3 linked regions of the Homo sapiens genome follow. The protein of the gene in region 2 interacts with the protein of the main gene of each other region in a pairwise test. Each region holds a gene or a part of one and is shown on either strand. Other genes may lie near its edges.

What was found. Proteins that work in one complex are often made in the same cells at the same time.
Region 1: the proteins of LIAT1 (region 2) and ATP1A3 interact in binary tests that used the Homo sapiens proteins (3 or more experiments, as listed by UniProt).
Region 3: the proteins of LIAT1 (region 2) and PECAM1 interact in binary tests that used the Homo sapiens proteins (3 or more experiments, as listed by UniProt).

Annotation. Positions count from the first base shown.
Region 1 is NC_000019.10:41,976,858-41,984,605, forward strand, and holds part of ATP1A3 (sodium/potassium-transporting ATPase subunit alpha-3), read right to left. Parts: intron 5,250-7,748; coding exon 5,051-5,249; intron 4,975-5,050; coding exon 4,865-4,974; intron 4,780-4,864; coding exon 4,645-4,779; intron 1,942-4,644; coding exon 1,749-1,941; intron 1,470-1,748; coding exon 1,294-1,469; intron 1,216-1,293; coding exon 1,079-1,215; intron 1-1,078. UniProt on the Homo sapiens protein: This is the catalytic component of the active enzyme, which catalyzes the hydrolysis of ATP coupled with the exchange of sodium and potassium ions across the plasma membrane.
Region 2 is NC_000017.11:405,181-413,764, reverse strand, and holds the start of LIAT1 (protein LIAT1), read right to left. Parts: upstream 3,441-8,584; 5' UTR 3,423-3,440; coding exon 3,119-3,422; intron 637-3,118; exon of another isoform or gene 618-636; coding exon 1-617. UniProt on the Homo sapiens protein: Participates in nucleolar liquid-liquid phase separation (LLPS) through its N-terminal intrinsically disordered region (IDR). May be involved in ATE1-mediated N-terminal arginylation.
Region 3 is NC_000017.11:64,318,542-64,325,235, forward strand, and holds the end of PECAM1 (platelet endothelial cell adhesion molecule precursor), read right to left. Parts: intron 5,305-6,694; coding exon 5,275-5,304; 3' UTR 874-5,274; downstream 1-873. UniProt on the Homo sapiens protein: Cell adhesion molecule which is required for leukocyte transendothelial migration (TEM) under most inflammatory conditions.

The sequences.
Region 1 (7,748 bases), on a different chromosome or scaffold from region 2:
GCAGTGGCGCAATCTCGGCTCACTGCAACCTTTGCTTCTTGGGTTCAAGTGATTTTCCTGTCTCAGCCTCCCTAGTAGATAGGATTACAGGTGCCCACCACCACGCCTGGCTAATTTTTTTTTAATTTTTAGTGCAGATGGGGTTTTGCCATGTTGGCCAGGCTGCTCTCGAACTCCTGACCTCAAGTGATCCACCCACCTCGGCCTCCCAAAATGCTGGGATTACAGGCGTGAGCCACTGCGCCCAGCCAAGACACAGTGGATTCAGAGGAACGGAGATAAATGGACAAGCTGAAGGAAGGCAGAGTCAGAGATAGGTATGAGGATGGGAAAGTTGAAGAAGTCAGAAAAACAGAACAGAAAAGAGAGACAATGACAGACAGACAGGAAAAAAGAGAGACAGACACAGAAGTACTGGATTCTACTGAATCCTCTGAGATAGGAATTATTAGTAGCCCATTTTAGAGATGGGCAAACTGAAGTTCATGGATGCTAAAGGACTTGCCCAATGTCACACAGCTTGTGAGCGGTATAAGCTGGAATGCAGGCCGGGCGCAGTGGCTCACGCCTGTAATCCCAGCACTTTGGGAGGCCAAGGCAGGTGGACCACCTGAGGTCAGGAGTTCGAGACCAGCCTGGCCAACATAGTGAAACCCCCGTCTCTACTAAAAATACAAAAAAAAAAAAAAAAAATTAGCGGGGCATGGTGGAGGGCCCCTGTAATCCCAGCTACTCAAGAGGCTGAGGCAGATAATTGCTTGAACCCGGGAGGCGGAGGCTGCAGTGAGCTGAGGTTGCCCCACTGCACTCCAGCCTGGGCGACAGAGCAAGACTCCATCTCAAAAACATAAATAAATAAATAAAATAAAATAAAGGCTGGGATGCAAACCTATGCCTGGCTACCTCTGTGGCTGCAATGTCCCCACACCGGAGGGAGGGCCAGACCCAGGGCCTGGTCCATGGAGGAGTCCCAGAAAGAATGGGACAGGCAGTGCAGAGGGAGGTTGGGGGGAAGCGGTCCCCCTGTGTCAACACCCTAGAGGGATGTCCAGGGCCCTGGCTGGGATGGGTGGCTCACCGGGGGTTAACCTGGCTGACGGGAATGTTGAGCCGGGCGGCGATGTCCTCCACAGTCTCGTTGCCCTCAGAGATGATGCCCACACCCTTGGCAATGGCCTTGGCCGTGATGGGGTGATCGCCGGTGACCATGATGACCTGCAGGCATTGTTTTTTAGGGATGGCCTCTCCCGCCCCACGCCTGGCTTTGCCTCCCCCAGCCACCCCAAGCCACACCTTGATGCCTGCGCTGCGACACTTGCCCACCGCGTCAGGGACGGCTGCCCGGGGTGGGTCGATCATGGACATGAGGCCCACAAAGCAGAGGTTGTCCGTGGTGAAGTTCACGTCATCACAGTCGAAGGCAAAGCCCTTGGGGAACTGCTCCTCGGGCAGGTAATAATGGCAGAAACCTAGTGGCAGGGAAGGGTTGGGGTGTGAGGGTCCCAGCCTCGGAACCTCCGCCCCATGCCCCTAGATGTCTGCATCGCCCGCATTCCATCTCCCCATCAGCAAGACGGCCAGTCAGCATTCATTTCCTAGGATACCTTCCCCTCTCATCCATCCATTCATTCATTCATTCATTCATTTACAGTATATTCTGGGAGGCCCTGGGCTGAGACAGGCTTTGGGCAGCATCACAACCCTCCTTGCCCTCCAGGGACCCCAGAGCCCGCCCGGCAGCCTCGCACCAAGCACGCGCTCGCCCAGGCCACCGAGCTCAAGGTAGGCATTCTGGAAGGCCTCCTTCATTTCCTCGTCCAGAGGCTGCTCCTTGCCCTGTAGCAGGATGGTGGAGCAGCGGTCCAGGATGCGCTCGGGGGCACCCTTCATCACCAGCAGGTATCGGTTGTCGTTGGGGTCCTCGGTCTCATGGATGGAGAGCTGGGGACCGATCAGAGGGTGGCGTGCCTGAGCCACGCAGACACCAGGAAGCTCCCTGCCCCATCCTGTCCCCTGTCCAGAGCCACGGGTGCCAGGATAGGCCCACACCAGGGCTCCCCCACACTCTCTCACAGAGACCTCTGCTCATTCCTGTCCGCTCTGTCTATGTCATGGATATATATTTCTTTTTCTTTTTCTTTTTTTCTTTTTTCTTTTTTTTTTGAGACAGAGTCTCGCTCTGTTGCCCAGGCTGGAGTGCAGTGGCACGATCTCAGCTCACTGCAACCTCCACCTCCTGGGTTCAAGCAATTCTCCTGCCTCAGCCTCCGGAGTAGCTTGGGATTACAGGCACCACCACCACACCCAGCTAACTTTTGTATTTTTAGTAGAGACGGGATTTTGCCATGTTGGCCAGGCTGGTCTTGAACTCCTGGCCTCAAGTGATCTGCCCTCATCGGCCTCTCAAAGTGCTGGGATAACAGGCATAAGCCACCACGTCTGTGCTCCCCTCCTCCCACCCTGTTTTTTTTTTTTAAGACAGGGTCTCACTCTGTCACCCAGGCTGGAGAACAGTGGCGAGATCACAGCTCACTGCAGCCTTGATCTCCCAGGCTCATGCGATCCTCCCGCTTCGGTCTCCCACGTAGCTGGGACCACAGGTCCACACCACCATGCCTGGCTAATTTTTTATAGAGACATGCTCTCCCTATGTTGCCCACGCTGGTCTCCATCTCCTGAGTTCAAGCGATCCTCCTGCCTCGGTCTCCCAAAGTGCTGGGATTACAGGCGTGAGCCACCACACCCAGCTGTATGCTTCCATTTTTATGAAATGTCCAGAATAGGCAAAACCATACGGACAGAAAGTAGGTTAGTGGTTGCTTAGGGCTGGGAGTGTCGGGGAGGAGGGGGCGGGTGACAGCTGAGAGATGTGGGGTTTCTTTTTGGAGGTGATGAAAATGCTCTAAAATTGACTATGTGGATGGCTGCCTATATCTGCGAATATACTAAAACTATTAAATTATACACTTAGAGGGACGAGCTATGGTATGTTAATTATATCTTAATAAAGTTATTTTAAAAGCTCTGAGTCAACTCCTGTCTCTCTTTGGCTGAGAGCCCCCTGGAGGCTTGTGTGCTCCTCAGAGTCACAGCCAAGTCCTCTCCATGCCCGTGGGGCCTGACAGGATCTGGCCAGCACCCACCACCCCCACCACGCTCCCTGGCTCCCAGCCCCTCTGCACTGGCTGGCTGGCTGGTGTTCAGATGCGTCAGCACACTCCCGCCTCTGGGCCTTTGCACAGGCTGTGCCTGCTACCGGAGCGCTCTTCCCCCAGACACCTGCAGGGTTCCCTCCCTCAGCACCACAACCACTACGATTACCTCCTCATGCCTTTGTTATTGTCTGTCTTCTAGAACCAGAGCGTAAGTCTCAGAGAGGGGTGACTTCACCATGTCACTCACTACTGTGTGTACACCCAGCACCCAAAACAGGGCCTAACATGTGGTGGCTGGTCAAAAAATGTATACTGAATGGGCCGGGCATGATGGCTTATGCCTGTAATCCCAGCACTTTGGGAGGCCGAGGTGGGTGGATCACTTGAGGTCAGGAGTTCAAGACCAGCCTGGCCAACATGATGAAACCCCATCAATACTAAAAATACAAAAACTAGCTGGGTGTGGTGGTGCACGCCTCTAATTCCAGCTACTCGGGAGGCTGAGATATGAGAATCACTTGAACCCAGAGACAGAGGTTGCAGTGAGCCAAGATCACACCACTGCCTTTTAGCCTGGGCGACAGAGCAAGACTCCATCTCAAAAAAAAGTTTACTGAGGCCGGGCGCGGTGGCTCATGCCTGTAATCCCAGCACTTTGGGAGGCTGAGGCGGGCAGATCACGAGGTCAGGAGATCGAGACCATCCTGGCTAACACGGTGAAACCCCGTCTCTACTAAAAATACAAAAAATTAGCTGGGCATGGTGGCGGGCGCCTGTAGTCCCAGCTATTCTGGAGGCTGAGGCAGGAGAATGGTGTGAACCCGGGAGGTGGAGCTTGCAGTGAGCTGAGATCGCGCCACTGCACTCCAGCCTGGGTGACAGAGCGAAACTCTGTCTCAAAAAAAAAAAAAGTTTGCTGAATAATTTAAAGTTGCTGCTCTGCCCCAAGAGGTCTCCTGCTTGTTCCCACTCTCTGCTGTAGGAAAACTTTTTTTTTTTTTTTGAGTCAGGGTCTTGCTCTGTCACCCAGGCTGGAGTACAGTGCGTGATGTAGGCTCTCTGCAGCCCCAACCTCCCCGGCTCAGGCAATCCTCCTGCCTCAGACTCCCAAATCGCTGAGACCACAGGCACATACCACCACACCTGGCTAATTAAAAAAAAAATTTCGTACAGATGGGGTTTTGCCATCTTGCCCAGGCTCGTCTCGAACTCCTGGCCTCAAGTGATCCCCCCACCTCAGCCTCCCAAAGTTCTGGTGTTAAAGGTGTGAGCCACCGCGCCTGGCCTGCAGGAAGATCTTTACTCCTCAGCGTCTCACTCCAACAGAGATCCGGCTCCCACTCTCAAGCTCTCCCTGTTCCTCTCCCCACCAGGCGGGTATTATCATTCCCATTTTACAGACGGGAAAATCAAGGCTCTATGACACCTCTTTACAGGCGTCATAAGGAACCTGAGGTCCAGGCTGGCTCTCCCGGAAAGCCCAGAGTACCTGGTATTTGTTGGTGGAATTGAAGGGAATCTCAGCCACTTTCTTGTTGCGTTCACGCATCAGCTTCACGGAGCCAGAGGACAGCTCGATGCACTTGAGCAGGGCAGACTCAGACGCATCCCCAGCCACATCCCTCTGCAAGGAGAAAGGGTTGTCAGAACAGGGACAGCTGAGGGGAGGACACAGGCAGGGCCGAGGTGAGGCCAGTAGCTGAACCCACCTTGAGCACAGGGATGTTGTCCTGACCACCCTTGAAGACAGCGCGATTGCAGAGCCCAGCGATGTGAGACAGGGCCACCCAGGTGTGCGAACTCTTGTCAAATGAGGTCCCTGGGGGAGGCATGTGTGAGGGCCAGGGACTCCTGGAGCCAGGCCCCCATGGTCCTCACCCGGGGCCTGCGCTCACCTGACTGGTCCTCAGTGGTGTCAGCCTCGTGGATCTGGTTGTCAAACCACATGTGGGCGACTGTCATGCGGTTCTGAGTGAGGGTCCCTGTCTTATCTGAGCAGATGGTGGACGTGGAGCCCAGGGTTTCTACAGCCTCCAGGTTCTTCACCAGGCAGTTCTTCCGGGCCATGCGCTTGGCGGTCAGCGTCAGACACACCTGGAGGACGAGCAAGGGCAGGCAAGTTACAGGGACAAGCCCGGCAGCAGGGTTGGATGAGCGACACGAGGGCCACAGCCCAGCTGCCCAGCCCCCAGAGAATCCTGAGGGCCTGGAAAAGAATGAGGCAGCACCCAGCAATGCCACCCCCAATTCAGACCAATAGAAACAGGGCAGAGACACCCAAAGACAGGGACTAGAATGCTCATAGCAGCCACATGCATAATAGTGCAAAACAGCCAGGTGCAGTGGCTCACGCCTGTAATCCCAGCACTTTGGGAGGCCGAGGTAGGCGCATCACTTGAGATCAGGAGTTCGAGACCAGCCTGGCTAACATGGTGAAACCCCATCCCTACTAAAAATACAGAAATTAGCAGGGCATGATGGTACACTCCTGTCATCCCAGCTACTTGGGAAGCTGAGGCACGAGAACCCCTTGAACCCAGGAGGTGGAGGTTGCAGTGATCCGAAATCGTGACACTGCACTCCAGCCTGGGCAACAGAGTGAGACTCCAACTCAAAAAAAAAAAAAATTGTCCAAAACTGCAAACTACTCAAATGTCCACTAACAGCAGAAAAGATAAATTGTGGACAATGGAATACTAACATTGATAAAAACAAATACATTACTGCTGCCTGCACCTGCATGGGTGAACGTCAAAAACATGTTCAGCCAAAAAGAGCCAGAAATGAGTTCATACTGAATTATTCCGTTAATAGGAAGTTTGAACACAGGCAAAGTTAATCTATGCTGTTAGCAGCCAGATCAGGGGTTACCCTTGGGTTGGGGGGCAGGGGCTAAATAAGGTCTTGAGGGGGCTTCAGGGAGACGCAGTCTCGTTGCAGCTGACGTGATTCTGTTCAGTTTGCCCCAAATCATCAGACTATGTGCTCACAATATGCTTAATCCTTTGCGTATAAAAATCCATTTGACATAGGGTAGCATTCAACATTGCTAATATGGAAAACAGTAAACTTTTTTTTTTTTTGAGACACAGTCTTGCTCTGTCGTCCAGGCTGGAGTGCAGTGGCTCGATCTCAGCTCACTGCAACCTCCACCTCCCAGGTTCAAGCAATTCTTGTGCCTCAGCCTCCCAAGTAGCTGGGATTACAGGCGCCCACCATCACGCCTGGCTAATTTTTGTATTTTTAGTAGAGATGGGGTTTTGCCATGTTGGCCAGGCTGGTCTTGAACTCCTGACCTCAAGTGATCCACCCACCTCGGATTCCCAAAGTGCTGGGATTACAGGCGTGAGCCACCCTGCCCGGCCCTAATATGGAAAACTTCACATAAAACATTAAGTCAAAGAATGAAAGAGGAGAATGGTATTTCTAAGATAGTCCCTGCCATGCACCTTGAAGACAGCATTTAGTCAATATGCTCACAGCTGTCAGGCGGAACCTCACAGAGAATGGACTTCTGGGGTGAAGCTGGCAGCAAAGCAGCCAGAGAAAAAATTTTTAAAAATAATAATAATAATTATTATTATTATAATAATTATTATTATTATTATTTTCTTGAGATGGAGTCTCCCTCTGTCACACAGGCTAGAGTGCAGTGGTTCAATCATGGCCCACTACAGCCTCAACCTCCCGGGTCAGCCTCCCAAATAGCTGGAACTACAGACATGTACCACCACGCCTGGCTAATTTAAAAAAATTTTTTTTTTTTTTTTTTTTTTTTTGAGACAGAATCTCGCTTTTGTCGCCCAGGCTGGAGTGAGGTGGCACGATCTCGGCTCACTGCAAGCTCTGCCTCCTAGGCTCAAGCTATTCTCCTGTCTCAGCCTCCTGAGTAGCTGGGATTCCAGGCACCCATCACCACGCCTGGCTAATTTTTATACTTTTAGTAGAGATGGGGTTTTGCCATGTTGGCCAGTCTGGTCTCGAACTCCTGACCTCAGGTGATCCACCCGCCTCGGCCTCCCAAAGTCTTGGGACTACAGGCATGAGCCACTGCGCCCAGCCTTCACATTTTTTGGTAGAGATGGGTTCTTACTATGTTGTCCAGGCTTGTCTCAAACTCCTGACCTCAAGCAGTCCTCCTGCCTCAGCCTCCCAAACTGTTGGGATTAAAGGCGTGAGCCACTGCGCCAGGCTTATTATTTTATTTTATTTATTTATTTATTTATTTTTGAGATGGAGTTTCACTCTTGTCACCCAGGCTGGAGTGCAATGGCGTGATCTTGGCTCACTGCAACCTCCGCCTCCCAGGTTCAAGCGATTCTCCTGCCTCAGCCTCCTGAGTAGCTGGGATTACAGGCATGTGCCACCACGCCCCACTAATTTTGTATTTTCAGTAGAGACAGGGTTTCACCATGTTGGCCAGGCTAGTCTTGAACTCCTGACCTCAGCTGATCTGCCCGCCTTGGCCCCCCAAAGTGCTGGGATTACAGCGTGAGCCAGTGCACCCAGCCTCATTATTTTATTTTTTAACTTGATGTACTCTTCAACTTTTCATCATGAGCGTGCACTTCTTAATTTTGCAATAGGATTGTT
Region 2 (8,584 bases):
GGGGTGGAAGCCCTTGAGGGCCTTGGGGTCGGGGTGGAAGCCCTTGAGGGCCTCGGGGTCAATGTGGAAACCCTTGAGGGCCTCGGGGTCAGTGTGGAAACCCTTGAGGGCCTCAGGGTCGGGGTGGAAGCCCTTGAGGGCCTCGGGGTCGGGGTGGAAGCCCTTGAGAGCCTCGGGGTCGGGGTGGATGCCCTTGAGGGCCTCGGGGTCGGGGTGGAAGCCCTTGAGGGCCTCGGGGTCGGGGTGGAAGCCCTTGAGGGCGTCGGGGTCGGGGTGGAAGCCCTTGAGGGCCTCGGGGTCGGGGTGGAAGCCCTTGAGGGCCAAGCACCGGTACCGTTTTCTCCGATTCAGTTTATAGATGCGAATCCTTTCCTTCTCTGCCTCCGGGTCAGCAAGAATTCCATCCCAACGCAGACTTTCGTTGATCCGATTCGCAAGGTTCTCTATTTCGGCAAAGTCGGGGAGGCTGACGGTGGAGGAGTCAGAAGGGAGGTGCTTCTTTTCCACTTTGCTCTGTCTGTGCTCTGGTTTCGGGCCACGCTCTTTGCAAGGACTTAAGATGTCATGAAAGGAGGAAGAAAGCGGCTGGCTCTTCAGGCTCTGACTCTGATGTTTATCTGCTGAGTAGATGAGCAGGTTAGTGTTTGTGGCAATGTCTGACCTTGGCCTGCTGGGGATGGTGCCAAAATCACCCAAGATGGAAGAGGAGGATGGGGGCCCCTCCGTACCCAGGGCTCAGGCTGCCAAGCCCACCAGCCTCGTGCCCACCTGCCTGTGTGATTTTGCTGAAATCATTTCAGGGCAGGAGGAACCATTCATTGAGCACACAGTCTGAGCCAGGCCGTCTGGGTAAAGGCGATCGGCCCTATTCTTCGGGTGAGGAAACCGAAGCTCCAAAAGGTTCAGGAACTTGCCAATGTCATGAGCGAGTGGCAGAGCTGGGACCTGAGTGCAGGCTGGGCCCCCAATGCCCCATTCTTTCCACTGGGCCGTGCTGCCCTCATCCATCCTCGCCATGTGCTCACCACGGCCATTCCCAGTTCTGGGAGTCTGTGACTCTACCCTAGTCTAGACACTTTATGATGGAAGGAACGGAAAACAACAGAAAAGCTTCCTAAATTTGACTGAAAGCAGTATTATGCCAAGCCAGAAATACTTCTGCTGTATGGCTTGTACTGATTTTTTTTTTTAACATCAATAGCACTTCAGAATTATTTAACATGCACATAAAATGCTACAAATTGTGGTTCTTTCATCAGCTCGTCCTTTTATTTTAGGGGAGAGAGAAAGAAATCATCTTTTGACATTTCCCTCCCTTGCTACGCCCTGGAAACTATCTGGTGCCCCCTGCTGATGGTATGAGGCACATGTCACTGTAATTTCTACAGTGAAAAGCTACGCCAAAAGGACAATGAACTGCCAAATTTCTTTTTGCAGATACACACAGGGCTTTTTTTTTTTTTGAGACTGAGTCTCACTCTGCCACCCAGGCTGGAGCACAGTGGCACAATCTTGGCTCACTGCAACCTCCGCCTCTCAGGTTCAAGCAATTCTAGGTGCCTGCCACCATGCCCAGCTAATTTTTGTATTTTCAGTAGAGACGGGGTTTCACCATGTTGGCCAGGCTGGTCTTGAATTCCCAAAGTGCTGGGATTACAGGCGTGAGCCATGTGCCCAGCCACACAGGGCTTCTTGACCTGAACTGCAGAATTTTCTTGCCTTTGTATTACGCCTGAGAAGTACTTATCATCTTCCCATTGCTCCCTTCCCACACTGCACGGTCCATATGGGCGAGGCTGCCACTCTGCCTCCTGCTTGCCTTGGTGCCAGCTCTGCCACAGAGGGCCAGGCCCCAGAACTGGAGCTTAGAGCCCTCTCCCAGACAGCCAAAGCCACTGAGGTGGACCACACGGGCGACAGTGGCCTCACAGCACTCACGGGCACCTGCATTCTCTGTCACTGCTGTGCTCTCTCTCCTCAAAGTGGGTGCTCAGTCCCCTTGTCAAGAAATGTAGGGGTTCTACAAGAAGAGCTTGGTGAGATGTAGGGACTGGGGTTTATGGCAGGTAGGGTATGTGTGTTTGTGAAGGTGTCCCTGAGAGAGACTGCAATTCCTGCCTGCATATGACTACACACGCGAATGGATAACGTATTAACAGTCTGTGTGTGTAGACTAGGAATGTGTGTGCATGAGGGGGATCTGTGCTTTAGTTTTCTTGTTTGTTTTTTTGAGAGACAGGGTCTTGCTTGTTGCCCAGGCTGGAGTGCAATGGTGCGATCATAGCTCACTGCAGCCTGGAAGTCCTGGGTTCAAGTGATCCTCCCACCTCGGCCTCCCAAAGTGCTCGGATTACAGGTGTGAGCCACTGCGTCCCGCCCTTTAGTTTCACTGTTGGTGTTACATTGATAGAAGGTGGGGGGAGTGGTTGAGGGTGTCCCCCGCCCTTTAGTTTCACTGTGGGTGTTACACTGATATGAAGCGGGGAGTGGTTGAGGGTGTCAGGGATTATAGGAGGATGTCACAGTGACTGGTGTCATGGGGTTTGTGCAGTCCAAGGCTGCCCCTTGGTGGGTGCGAGGGGGAGCCCATGCAGCGAGGACCTTTAATACACACGTCTGTGGGTGTGGGTGTCTACCGCGCATCCACAGGCAGGCAGCCTTAACGCAAGAGGGTGGGAGGAGGGGAGGCAGGAGTCTGCCCTTCTCTGTGCATGAGAGTGAGGGCCTTTCATGTGGCATCAATGTGTTTGGGGTGGGGAAAGTGTCTTGTGAGGAGGGCCTCTGTGGGGAAGGCGCAGACGTTTAAGACTGCCAGTTTTGGCTGAGGGATTAGGAAGTTGAGAGGGTGTCTTTGTGTGGGGCTGGAAGGCTCTTAGGAATGGTGGATATCTGTAGGGGTCTCTGTGTGGGGCTAAGGGACCGCAGAGTTGGTGGATGGTCTCCACGGGTGGGGCTGGGGCATCAACGTGCTGCTGACGGGCATGTGTGGGGAGCAGGAGGACCTCGGTCCGGGACCACTGAGCTTCTGTTTCCGGTCTGAAGGGTAAATGGGGGGTGGGTCCCCAAAGAGTCTCCAGGGAACCGGAGCTGACGCAGCCGGGCTAGCTGCTCCTCTTACCGTCCCCCTTGCCAGACCCCTTGGTCTTCTTCTTCCTTTTTTTCTTCTTCACCTTCCGTTTGGCCAGCTCGGAGGCGCCGCCTGTGATGGGGGGCAGTCTAGACCCCCGCGGGCCCGCGGCGCCGCCCTCCCGCTCCTCCTCCTCGCCGTCGTTGTCCTTGTACCCCATTGTCCCCGCCCCACCGCGGCGGTCCAGCCGCCCGCTGGGCTGCAACCCAACCCGCCCCGGGGGCGCCCGAGGCCCGATGCCGACTAATCGGCGACTCTCAGCGCGGACCGCCAGGCCAGGGCCACGCGTCTCCATGGCGACCACCCCTGCTGCGCCTGCGCAGTCAGGACGCTTCCGCCCGGTGCCCCACGGACCGCGGTGTGCGCATGCGTGCTTCCGTCTTTTGGCGACCTTGGCACACAGCGGTGTGCGCATGTGTGCTTCTGTCGGGGATCTCGAGAACAGAGCGTTGTGCGCATGCGTACATCTGTCGGAGTGCTAGGTACGCAGCGGTGCGCGCATGCGTGCTTCCATCTGTTGGCGATACCGGCACAGCGATGTGCGCATGCGTGCTTCTGTCTGCGGAGACCTCCGCGCATAGAAGTGTGCGCATGCGTGCGTCTGTCGGAAACCTCCGCACACAGAGGTGTGCGCATGCGTGCTTCTGTCGGGGACCGCGGCGCACGGTGGTTCGCCCATGCTTGCTTTTGTCTGTTGGAATCTGGACAGTTGACCGCAGGAAGGGGAGGGTGGGCAGAGAGATTTTAAATCCCTGGGCTGACACTCATCTCGTCCAGTCCCGTGCCTCGATCCTCCTGCCTTGGCCTCCCATCCCCACGCCTGGCTAAGAGTTTTGATTTTTGGTTTCAGGCTGGTCTCGAACTCCTGGGCTCCATCGATCTTCCCGCCTCGGCCTCCTAGATCGCTGGGATCACAGGCATGAGCCTCCGTGCTCGGCCTCCTGTACCTTTTTAAATGCTGTGTATTCTCCCCTCAATTTTTATTGCCTGAGTTTCAGCCTCGTACATCTACCCTGGACTCTCAAAGCCAATGTGTCCAAAACAAACTTACTTCTTCATGGTTTTCCACTTTAGTGAACAAAACCGCTGGACTGGCTGGAAACCTGGTGGGCTTCCGTGTCCCCTACCCTCTCCCTTGTCCCTTACCCAGGCTGGGGCCGACTGCCGTGTCTGGCACTGGGACTTCTGGGTCCTCTCCTGAATGGTCTCTGCTTTCAAACCTTCCCCACGAACTCTTTTTCCGCACAGCTGCTAGAACAAACTTTTAAAAACAACCAAACCGTTCACTCTCTTGCTAAAAGTCTCCAGTGATGAAAAACAAAACATAAAAAGCCAAAAAGTCCTCCATTGCTTCCTCATCACAATTTACATCAAGATCTAAACTCTTGTGGGGCTCTGTGCAGGGCTGACACCCGTAGTCCCAACACTTTGGGAGGTCAAGGTGGGTGGATCGCTTGAGCCCATTCTGGGCAACGTAGTGAGACCCCATCTCTACAAAAAATTAACCAGCTGCGCTGAGGGGCACTTGTGGAGGAACTTGAGCCTGCAGTGAGCCGAGATCGCACCACTGCTGTCCAGCCTGGGTAACAAAGCAAGACTTTCTCTCTCTTTTTTTTTTTTTGGGAGACAGAGCCTTCCTCTGTTGCCCAGGCTGGAATGCAGTGGCGTGAACGTGACTCACTGCAACCTCTGCCTCTCAGGTTCAAGTGATTCTTCTGCCTCAGCCTCCCTAGTAGCTAGGACTACAGGTGCGTGCCACCACGCCTGGCTGATTTTTTATTTTTTATTTTTTGTATTTTTAGTAGAGACGGGGTGTCACCATATTGGCCAGGCTGGTCTCGAACACCTGACCTTGTGATCCGCCTACCTCGGCCTCCCAAAGTGCTGGGACTACAGGCTTGAGCCACCACGCCCGGCCTCTGTGTCTTAAAAAAAAAAATAACAAAGTGTGGCTTACAAGGCCTGGTATGATGCATCACCTGCTTTTCTTTCTAGGTTTACCCTCCACAGATTGTATTATCTGAAAATGGCTGCAGAGGCTGGGCATGGTGGCTCACGCCTGTAATCCCAGCACTTTGGGAGGCCGAGGTGGGTGGATCACTTGAGGTCAGGAGTTTGAGACCAGCCTGGCCAACATGGAGAAACCCCGTCTCTACTAAAAATACAAAAATTAGCTGGGCATGGTGGTGGGTGCATGTAATCCCAGCTATTTGAGAGGCTGAGGCAGGAGAATCACTTGAACCCAGGAGGTAGAGGTTGCAGTGAGCTGAAATTGCATCACTGCACTCCAGCCTGGGTGACAGGGCAAGGCTCCATCTCAAAATAAAATAAAATGATAAAATAAAATAAAACTGCTGTGCTCCAGCCTGGGTGACAGAGCAAGACTCCATCTCAAAATAAAATAAAATGATAAAATAAAACTGGCTGCAGTAATATCTCTTGTCCCACATACTCTTCAAGAATCTTGCCATTCCCATGGCAAGACGCAGAGTCTCATTCCGCTCTCCTTCAATTTAAGGGGTTTGTTGACTCGCTTGTAACCAATAGTATGTGGCAGAAGTGCCTCTGTGTGACTTCTCAGGCTAGGTCCTAAAGGGAATGCAGCATCCATCCATCTTCTTAGCCCATGACGTGCTTGCTGTAGAGTCCTGAGCCTCCCATTGAGAAGTCTGAGGACCCCAAGGCTGTCACACCTTGATAAATCCCCACCTAGTCCACGTGGAGAGCCTCTAAGATGTATGGAGAGAAAGATGCCTCAGCTCCTCCAGCCCCCACTTTTCCCATCCAGCTATCGTCCTGCAGCAGCAGCAGGAGAGACCCCAGGCCAGCCCCAAGCAGACAAGCCTTTCCTGAATTCCTGACCCAAAGAAGCTGTGAGAGAAAATACAATGGTTGTAGTTATTTAAGTTACGAAGGTTTGGAGTGATGTGTTATGCAACAGTAGATAACCAAATGTGTCTTTTTAAAAAGATATGGAATGGTATTTTATCTTTTATTTAATTTCAACTTTTATTTTAGATTCGGGGGGTACATGTGCAAGTTTGTTACATGAGTACACTGAGTGATGGTACATGACTCATGAGTACAATGTACATGAGTACATTGAGGTTTGGGGTATGGGTGATCCCGTCACCCAGGTGGTGAGTACAACACCCAACAGTAGTTTCTCAGTCCACATCTTCCAGCCCCTCCTCCCTCTAGTAGTCCCCATTACCCATTGAAAAATCAGCCTTTGATTTTAGCCACTCTAGTGGGTAAGAAGTTGTATTTCTCTGTGGTTTTGAATTGAATTCCCTTGGTGATTAACGAAGTCAAGAACTCTTGAAAGTGCTTTCTGGTCATTTGTGTATATATATATATATATGTATATATATATATATATTTTTTTTTTTTGAGATGGAGTCTTGCTGTGTGGTCTGGGCTTCCATGCAGTGGCACAATCTCCACTCGATGCAGCCTCTGCCTTCTGGGTTCAAGCAATTCTCCTCCCTCAGCCTCCTGAGTAGTTGGGATTACAGGCATGCACCACCACACCTGGCTAATTTTTGTATTTTTAGTAGAGACGGGGTTTCACCATATTGGCCAGGCTGCTCTCAAATTCCTGACCTCAGGTGATCCACCCGCCTCGGCCTCCCAAAGTGCTGAGTTTACAGGTGTGAGCCACTGCGCCCGGCCTGTCATTTGTATATCTTTAAGTGTCTTTTGAAGTCTTTTGGCCATTCTGTAATGTGGTTGTTTATTGTTGATTTGTTGTTTGTTGTTGATGTCTTTGCACAACTTGAATATAAGTGTTTTGTCAGCTTTATGACTGCAAAGATTTTTTTTCCAGGTCTGTAACTTATCCATTTTCTGAATGTGGTGTCTTTGGATAAGCAGAAATTTGAAATTCTGATAAATAATTTTTTTCAATTTTCAATTCATTTGATCAGTTTTTTCTTTTTGTATTGTGTCCAAGGATGCTTTGCCTGCCCCATATTGCAAAGACAGTGTGCTATGCTATCTTCTAGAAGCTTTATAGTTCTGGTTTTAGGTTAGGTTCATGATCTACTTCAAATTTATTATTATTTTTTGAGATGGAGTTTCGCTCTTGTCGCCCAGGCTGGAGTGCAGTGGCGTGATCTCAGCTCACTGCAACCTCTGCCTCCCGGATTTAAGCAATTCTCCTGCCTCAGCCCCCAAGTAGCTGGGATTACAGGCATGCACAAACATGCCAGGCTAATTTTGTATTTTTAGTAGAGGCAGGGTTTTACCACGTTGGCCAGGCTGGGCTTGAACTCCTGACCTCAAGTGATCCGCCCGCCTCGGCCTCCCAGAGTGCTGGGATTATAGGTGTGAGCCACCGCACCTGGCCTACCTCAAATTGATTTTGTGAATAAAGTCACATATAGGAGTCACATTTATTTTTTCCCAAATCGATTTCCAGTTTTTCCAGGAACTTCCATTGAAAAGACATTCCTTTTCCCATTGACTTGACTTGGTACTTTTCATTACGATTTTTAAAAATTTTTTTGGGATGGAGTTTCACTCTGTGGCCCAGGCTGGAGTGCAGTGGTACGATCTCGGCTCACTGCAACCTCCACTTCCCAGGTTCAAGTGGTTCTTCTGCCTCAGCCTCCTGAGTAGCTGGCACTACAGGTGCGTGCCACCATACCTGGCTAATTTTTTTTTTTTTTGTATTTTTAGTAGAGATGGGGCTTCACCATTTTGGCCAGGCTGGTCTCAAACTCCTGACCTCAAGTGATCCACCTGCCTCAGCCTCCCAAAGTGCTGGGATTACAGGCGTGAGTCACCACAGCTGGTCATTTCTGATTTTCTTTTCTTTTCTTTTCTTTTTTTGAGACAGGGTCTCACTGTTTTGCCCAAGCGGGTCTCAAATCTCTGGGCTCAAGTGATCCTCCTACCTTGGCCTCCCAAAGCATTGGGATTACAGGCATGAGCCACCATACCCAGCCTGACTTGGTATTTTTGTAGAAAATGAGTTAACTATGTGTTTGTCAATCTATTTCTGGACTCTGTTTTGTTCTGTTGTTCTGTCTATCCTTTGATCAATACCACATCATCTTGACTTATCATCTTGTATCTTTATGGTAAATCTTTTTTTTAAAAAAATACAAATAAAAAATAGAGATGGATTATCAGTATGTTCCCCAGGCTGGTCTCAAACTCCTGAGCTCACGTTGTCCTCCCGCCTTTGCCTTCCAAAATGCTGGGGTTACAGGCGTGAGCCGCCGTGCCCGGCCCATGGTAAATCTTGATGTCACGTAGTGTAAGTCTTCCAACTGTGTTATTTTTGAAGATTGTTTGGACGATTCTAGAGCCGTTGCTTTTCCATATACATTTTCAAATCTTCTGGTTTACTTCTTAAAATCCCCTTTGAGATTTTGATGGGGATTGCATCAAATCTATAAATCTGTCAGTACTGAGTAAATGACAGTCATTGGTGTGTGCGGACGCATT
Region 3 (6,694 bases), about 64 Mb from region 2:
CCCTTTTTTGGACCCTATCTCCCTTCAAGAAACTGATAAAAGGCCAGGCGTAGTGGCTCACACCTATAATACCAGAATTTGGGAGGCTGAGGCAGGAGTTCTATCACTTGAGCCCAGGAGTTTGTGACCAGCCTGGGCAACATAGTAACACCCTCATCTCTACAAAAAAATTAAAAATTAGCTGGGTGTGGTCGTGGGCACCTGTGGTCCCAGCTTTGGGAAGCTGAGACAGGAGGATTGCTTGAGCCCGGGAGGTCAAGGCTGCAGTGAGCCATGTTCACACCAGTGCACTCCAGCCTGCGTGACAGAGCAAGACTCTTTATCTCAAAACAAACAAAGACATGGATAAAAGCTATGGATTCTCTCCCATAGAAAACTGCACACCCTCATAACCTTTTGCACCTACTCTTTTTTTTTTTTGAGACAGAGTTTCGCTCTTGTTGCCCAGGCTGGAGTGCAATGGCTCGATCTTGGCTCACCACAACCTCTGCCTCCCAGGTTCAAGCAATTCTCCTGCCTCAGCCTCCCGAGTAGCTGAGATTACAGGCATGCACCACTACGCCCGGCTGATTTTGTATTTTTAGTAGAGATGGGGTTTCCCCATATTGAGGCTGGTCTCGAACTCCTGACCTCAGCTGATCCACCCACCTCAGCCTCTCAAAGTGCTGGGGTTACAGGCGTGAGCCACCGCGCCCGGCTGCACCTACTCTTAGAGAATTCTCAGGCCCCACGCCTTACCCCAACTTCTGTTACCAGTGGTGAATCCAATGGGTCTGCAGCAAACTTGATGCTTGCCTTCTCAAAGACAGAACTCAGCTGAGGGGCAGAGGTGGTTTTAAGTGGTTTTAAGGCACAGGGAGAGACCAAGGCAAGTTTTAGAGCAGGAGTGAGAGTTTATTAAAAAGTTTTAGAGCAGGAACAAAAGGAAGTACACTACACTTGGGTCAGGCAGGCAACTTGAGAGATCTAAGTGCCCTGCCTGACCCTTAACTTGGGGTTTTATGTATTTGGCATAGTTCTGGGATTTACGTCTCATCTCCCCTGATTCTTCCCTTGCAGCAGGCTGTCCGCGTATGTGGTGACCTGCCAGCACTTGGAAGGGGTCGCATGCACAGTGTGATTACTGAAGTTGCGCGCATGCTCACTTGAGGCATTTTTCCCCTTACCAGTCGTGCGTTCCCAGAGGAAGGTAGGTCATATACTGGTTAAATTCCGCCATTTTGCCTCTTGGTGCGCATGCTCCAGGCTGCTTGCCCAGCTCCTGAGATCTTATCGGGAAGCGGCTGATCACCAGATCAGGGTGTTTTGTATCTATTGAGAGACTGTCCTTGCTTGGAGCTGGCTGCAACCAATTATTATTTTACAGAGACAGTTTAACAACCACCTGACCATCACCTGATGGTAGCCTGACATTCCTGTGGGGGCCCTCACCTGTCCTGCTCATGTTTGCCTAGCTCCCTACTCTAACATTTCCACTCTGTGGACCCCAGGTTGAGATCTTCTGCAGGGAAGACTGTCCTCAAATAGCCTGCTGGGGAGACATCTCCTTCCCGTTTACCTTTCCATTTGCCCTTGCGGTGTTAGGCAAAGGCTGAAGCTGGCCTCTGTGGCAGAGGGTTTCTTCCCAACACGCCAATGACGCTGGTGGAGAGTCTTAAAAACAGCTGTGCTGGGGAGAGTTCTTGGTGTGTACCTTTCAGAGACCTCCTCCTTAAGACTCTCAAAGACTGAGTCAGGCCAGTGGGAGCCTGGCAGCAATTCTTAGGGGACAGTGACAGCTTTTTGAGGAGGACTAATTGGCTTCTAGGGCTGGAGGCCACTTGGGTCTGACAGACTGCCCTGCTGCCATCCCTCCAGGGCACCCCCCACTCCCTTGCCTCAGGGCCTTCCTGCACTTCTTCCTTTTGTCCTCAATGTTCTTCACCCCACCTTTTCCACTGGTACCCTCTGCCTATGGTCAAGGCTTTGGTGAGACCCACTTTCCTCTTAGACCTTCCTGGATCCCCCAAAGTCTGTGTTGGAAGCCCCTCCCATGTGCCCTTGTTTGAGCTTTTAATTTTCCACCATGACGCTTGTCACACTGCTTTGTAATTGGCTCTCTGTTAGTCTGCATCTCTACTGGGTTGTACCTTCCAGGAGGACAGCTGCCATGTGACTCTTGTAATCTTCCCACCGCCAACACCCAGCACAGCGTCAGGAACACAGAGCATGATGAGCACAAGCTTGTTGAGCAAACAGACAAATAACTGGATGCTTCTGTGCAGAGTTTCTCAACCTGGCCATTATTGGCATTTGGGACTTGATCATGCTTGGTCGTGGGAGACGGTTCTGTGCCTGTAGGATGTTTAGGAGCATGCTTGGTTTCTACCCACCAGATGCCGGGAGCACACCCACCCAGCTGTGACAACCAAAAATGTCTCCAGACACCATTCCAAAACCAGCGGGAGACAAAATCGCCCGACAGTCGTTGCTTTAGTGAGTGAATGTTGACCTAAGCGTCACTTCGCCTGTCTTGAGTCTAGGTCGGGGAGTGGGTTCAGTTAGCCAATCAGAGAACGCTGATGGGGCGACCAGTATATGCTCATGAAATGGGTGGCTGACCTCTTGGGGTCAGAAGAGGGAAAAGTTTTACTGTGTGTTGGCTAAGGACCATTTTAAGTCCTTCAGTGACCGATTACCACATGAGAACACAAGAGGGCGCTCTAACTAATGAGTTCCGCGGCCGAGAAAACTCCTGGAGTGGGTGCTCCTGGGATGCTTCAGGTTTAGACACCGGGGTTACGGCAGCTGCCGAGGAAGGCTAAAGCCAGCGTCCTGGATTCAGACAGACCTTTTAGCCATTAAATCCACTAAGAAAGATCCCTGCGCATGAAGTTTCCTCCTCGGAAATATAGGCAGAAGGGAAAGTAATTTTAAACTCATGTGTGCTCCACAGGCCGGGGGCGGTGGCTCATGCCTGCAATCCCAGCACTTTGCGAGGCCAAGGAGGGAGGATCACTTGAGCCCAGAAGTTCGAGACCAGCCTGGGCACCATGGTGAAACCTCATCTCTGCAAAAAAAAAATTAAAAATTAGCCAGCTATGGCGGCTCACGCCTCTGGTCCCAGCTACCCAGGAAGCTGAGATGGGAGGATCGCTTGAGCCCAGGGGTTCGAGGCTGCGGTGAGCCATTGTTGTGCCACTGCACTCCAGCCTGGGCAACAGAGCAAGCCCCTGTCTCAACAAAACAAAACAAAACAAAAAATTCAGTCGTGCTGCATAAGTAAGGCACCAGGAGTAGGAATAGGGTCTTTGCAGCTCCCGTGGCAATTGCCCTTCTCTGGTGGTGGCAAGGGACTAAGGAACTCCCTGGACACAGGGGATCTGGCTGTCCCCAGATCATCAACAGAGACATGAAGGTCGTTAGAGGTCGTCTGATCCTTTGACCTCAATCTGAGCCCACCACTCAGAAAACCTGGAAATTGTATGACATTTTCGTGATACAACTCGGTGTGTGTGTGTTGGGGAAAGGAACCAACAGCTTTCATCATATTGTCAAAAGAGTCTAGGCTGGGCATGGTGGCTCACGCCTGCAATCCCAACCCAAAGGCCTGTGGAGCACACATGAGGACAAGGCGGGCAGATCACCAAAGGTCAGGCATTCGAGATCAGCCTGGCCAACGTGGTGAAACCCCATCTCTACTAAAAATACAAAAATTAGCCAGGCGTGGTGACATGTGCCTGTAATCCCAGCTACTCGGGAGGCTGAGACAGGAGAACTGCTTGAACCCAGGAGGCGGAGGTTGCAGTGAGCAGAGGTTGCGCCGCTGCAGTCCAGCCCGGGCAACAAGAGCGAATCTCCGTCTCAAAACAACAAAACAAAAACATAGACCTGCTCGGTTCTCTCTGTGACTTCAGAGGCCCAAGGAGTCCTCAGCACTATAGATGCATGTGGCCCCTCAGAAGACAACATTTCACAGATCTGCAAAGAGCAAAGGTCAAATTTATTTAATACAACATCCACGAGGGTCCCTGCAGCTGTGTCACTGAGGCAAACAGGAAAAGTGATTTTGGCTAGGCGTGGTTCTCATCTGTGAAATTCCACAGCGCAATGACAGCAGCCTCTCTCCCACCCACTCAAGACACTGTCAGGAATGTCTTAAGACCTCAGGAGACCACTTCTTTAGCAAGCAATTTTGTTTTTTGTTTTTTTTGAGATGGATTCTCACTCTGTCACTCAGGCTGGAGTGCAGTGGCGCGATCTCCGCTCACTACAACCTCCGTTTCCTGGGTTCAAGCGATAATCTCACCTCAGCCTCTTGAGTAGCTGATACTACAGGCATGCGCCACCACGCCCGGCTAATTCTTGTATTTTTAGTAGAGACAGGGTTTCATCAGGCTGGTCTCAAACTCCTGACCTCAGGTGATCCGCCCACCTCAGCCTCCTGAAGTGCTGGGATTACAGGCGTGAGCCACCTTGCCTGCCCTGGCAAGGAATACATTTTTAAAAATTAGTAAGAAACATACACATTTCAAGTTTTCAATTAAGAATAATATTTGCTGATGGCACCATCTTCCTGTCTTTCAGCCTTCAGCATGGTAGAGGAAAAGAGAAAGAGTGTAGACAAAAACAGTTGAAGAACATCTGTGCTTGTTCCACCTTCATTTTCTGTTTTGTGCGTTGCCTGAATGAACGGTGTCTTCAGGTTGGTATTTCACAGGCGGTGCTCCCAAGTAGTCTGGTTTTCCCATTTGTGGAGGGCGAGGTCATAGAGGGGACAGGGGGAGGCTGTCTGGTCAGCACTGTGTATTTCCAAAGAACAAGGACTAGCCAAAACTACAAGCCTTTGAAGGACCAAAGGAAAAGAGAAAAAACCAGCCTCTAACCAGGCCATGCGCTAGAAATGATTGAGTATAAAAAAGAAAATTGGTTTCTGTGTATGAGGGTGCATGGAAAAGGTCTTTATCTCTGCACAAAACAAAATATTCAAGTTTCAGAATATCCCAATGGCCTTGCCCTGGATCTCCTCTTGTGCTCTTCCAATTTCCAAGGATGTTCCAACTTGGTGGAAGGAGGGTATGTGGGAAATTCAACAGCCCCTCTGTATCTCTTTCTACCCAACATTAACTTAGCAGGATGGATTTAAGAACCGGCAGCTTAGCCTGAGGAATTGCTGTGTTCTGTGGGAGCAGGGCAGGTTCATAAATAAGTGCACAGAGGTCTTGAAATACAGGGATTATCTGTTCTTCTCGGAACATGGATGTCCTTCCAGGGATGTGCATCTGGCCTTGCTGTCTAAGTTCCATCAAGGGAGCCTTCCGTTCTCTGTAGCGACAAGAAACAAGGCAAGTTATGATCACACCTCTCAAGATTGAAGATTGCCCTGGTGGAGAGAAATGCAAAATGACAGCACTTCTCAAAGAAAATGCAAAGCAGGGCTGTCACACACTGGTCCCCCACCCTGCAGGGTTCTCTCTGTGACTTCAGAGGCCCAAGGAGTCCTCAGCACTACAGATACACGTGGCCCCTCAGAAGACAACATTTCACAGATCTGCAAAGAATAAAGGTCAAATTTACTTAATACAACACCCACCAGGGTTCCTGCAGCTGTGTCACTGAGGCAAACAGGGAAAGTAATTTTGGTTAGGTGTGGTTCTCACCTCTGAAATTCCACAGCACAATGACTGCAGCCTCTCTCCCACCCACTCAAGACATTGTCAGGAACGTCTTAAGACCTCAGGAGACCACTTCTTTAGCAAGCAATTTTTTTTAGATGGATTCTCACTCTGTCACTCAGGCTGGAGTGCAGTGGCGCGGTCTCTGCTCACTACACCCTCCCTCTCCTGGCTCCTGCCCGTATGTATTTCTCCTTCTCTCCATGCCTGCTCTGTAGGGACCATAGCCTCTGTCCCTGCATACATGTTGGACATCAATCACATCAGTCCACCAAGTAACTTCATCAAGCACCCATGTACGCCCAGCACAGCGTCCCAAGGGTGCCCCACTTACCCACAGAAGAAGAAAGGCAACTTTGTAAGAGATCTGACTTCTAGCTCCAGTTCTGTCTCTAGCTAACGTGAGATGTACCCGTTTGAGGCCTGTTTTTTAATTTTGAAAATGAAGGACTGAACTTAGATGGTCCAACTGAAATGTTTTAAAATGATATGATTCTACCTTAAAAAGAGAATGAAATTCTGATATATTTTCAACACAGGAAAACCTTGAAAACGTTATGCTAAATGAAATAAGGCAGACATGAAAGGACAAATATATGATTCCACTTATGTGATGTACCTCAAATAGTCAAATTCATAGAGACAGAAAGTAGACAGTGGTTGCTAGGGGTTGCTGGAGGGGCAATGGGGAGTTAGTGTTTAATGGGTACAGTGTTTCAGTGGCTGCTCTGCCTATGGAGTAGCCATTCTTTTGTTTCTTTACTTCTCTAATAAACTTGCTTTCACTTAAAAAGAAAAAGCTCTGGAGATGGATAGTGGTGGTGGTTGCACAGCAATGTGAACGGACCTAATGCAACTGAATTATACACTTTAAAATGGTTAAGTATACACTGGAAAATGGTGAATTTGCCGGGCGGGCGCAGTGGCTCACGCCTGTAATCCCAACACTTTGGGAGGCCGAGGCGGGTGGATCATGAGGTCAGGAGTTCAAGACCAGCCTGGCCAACATAGTGAAACCTTGTCTCTACTGAAAAATACAA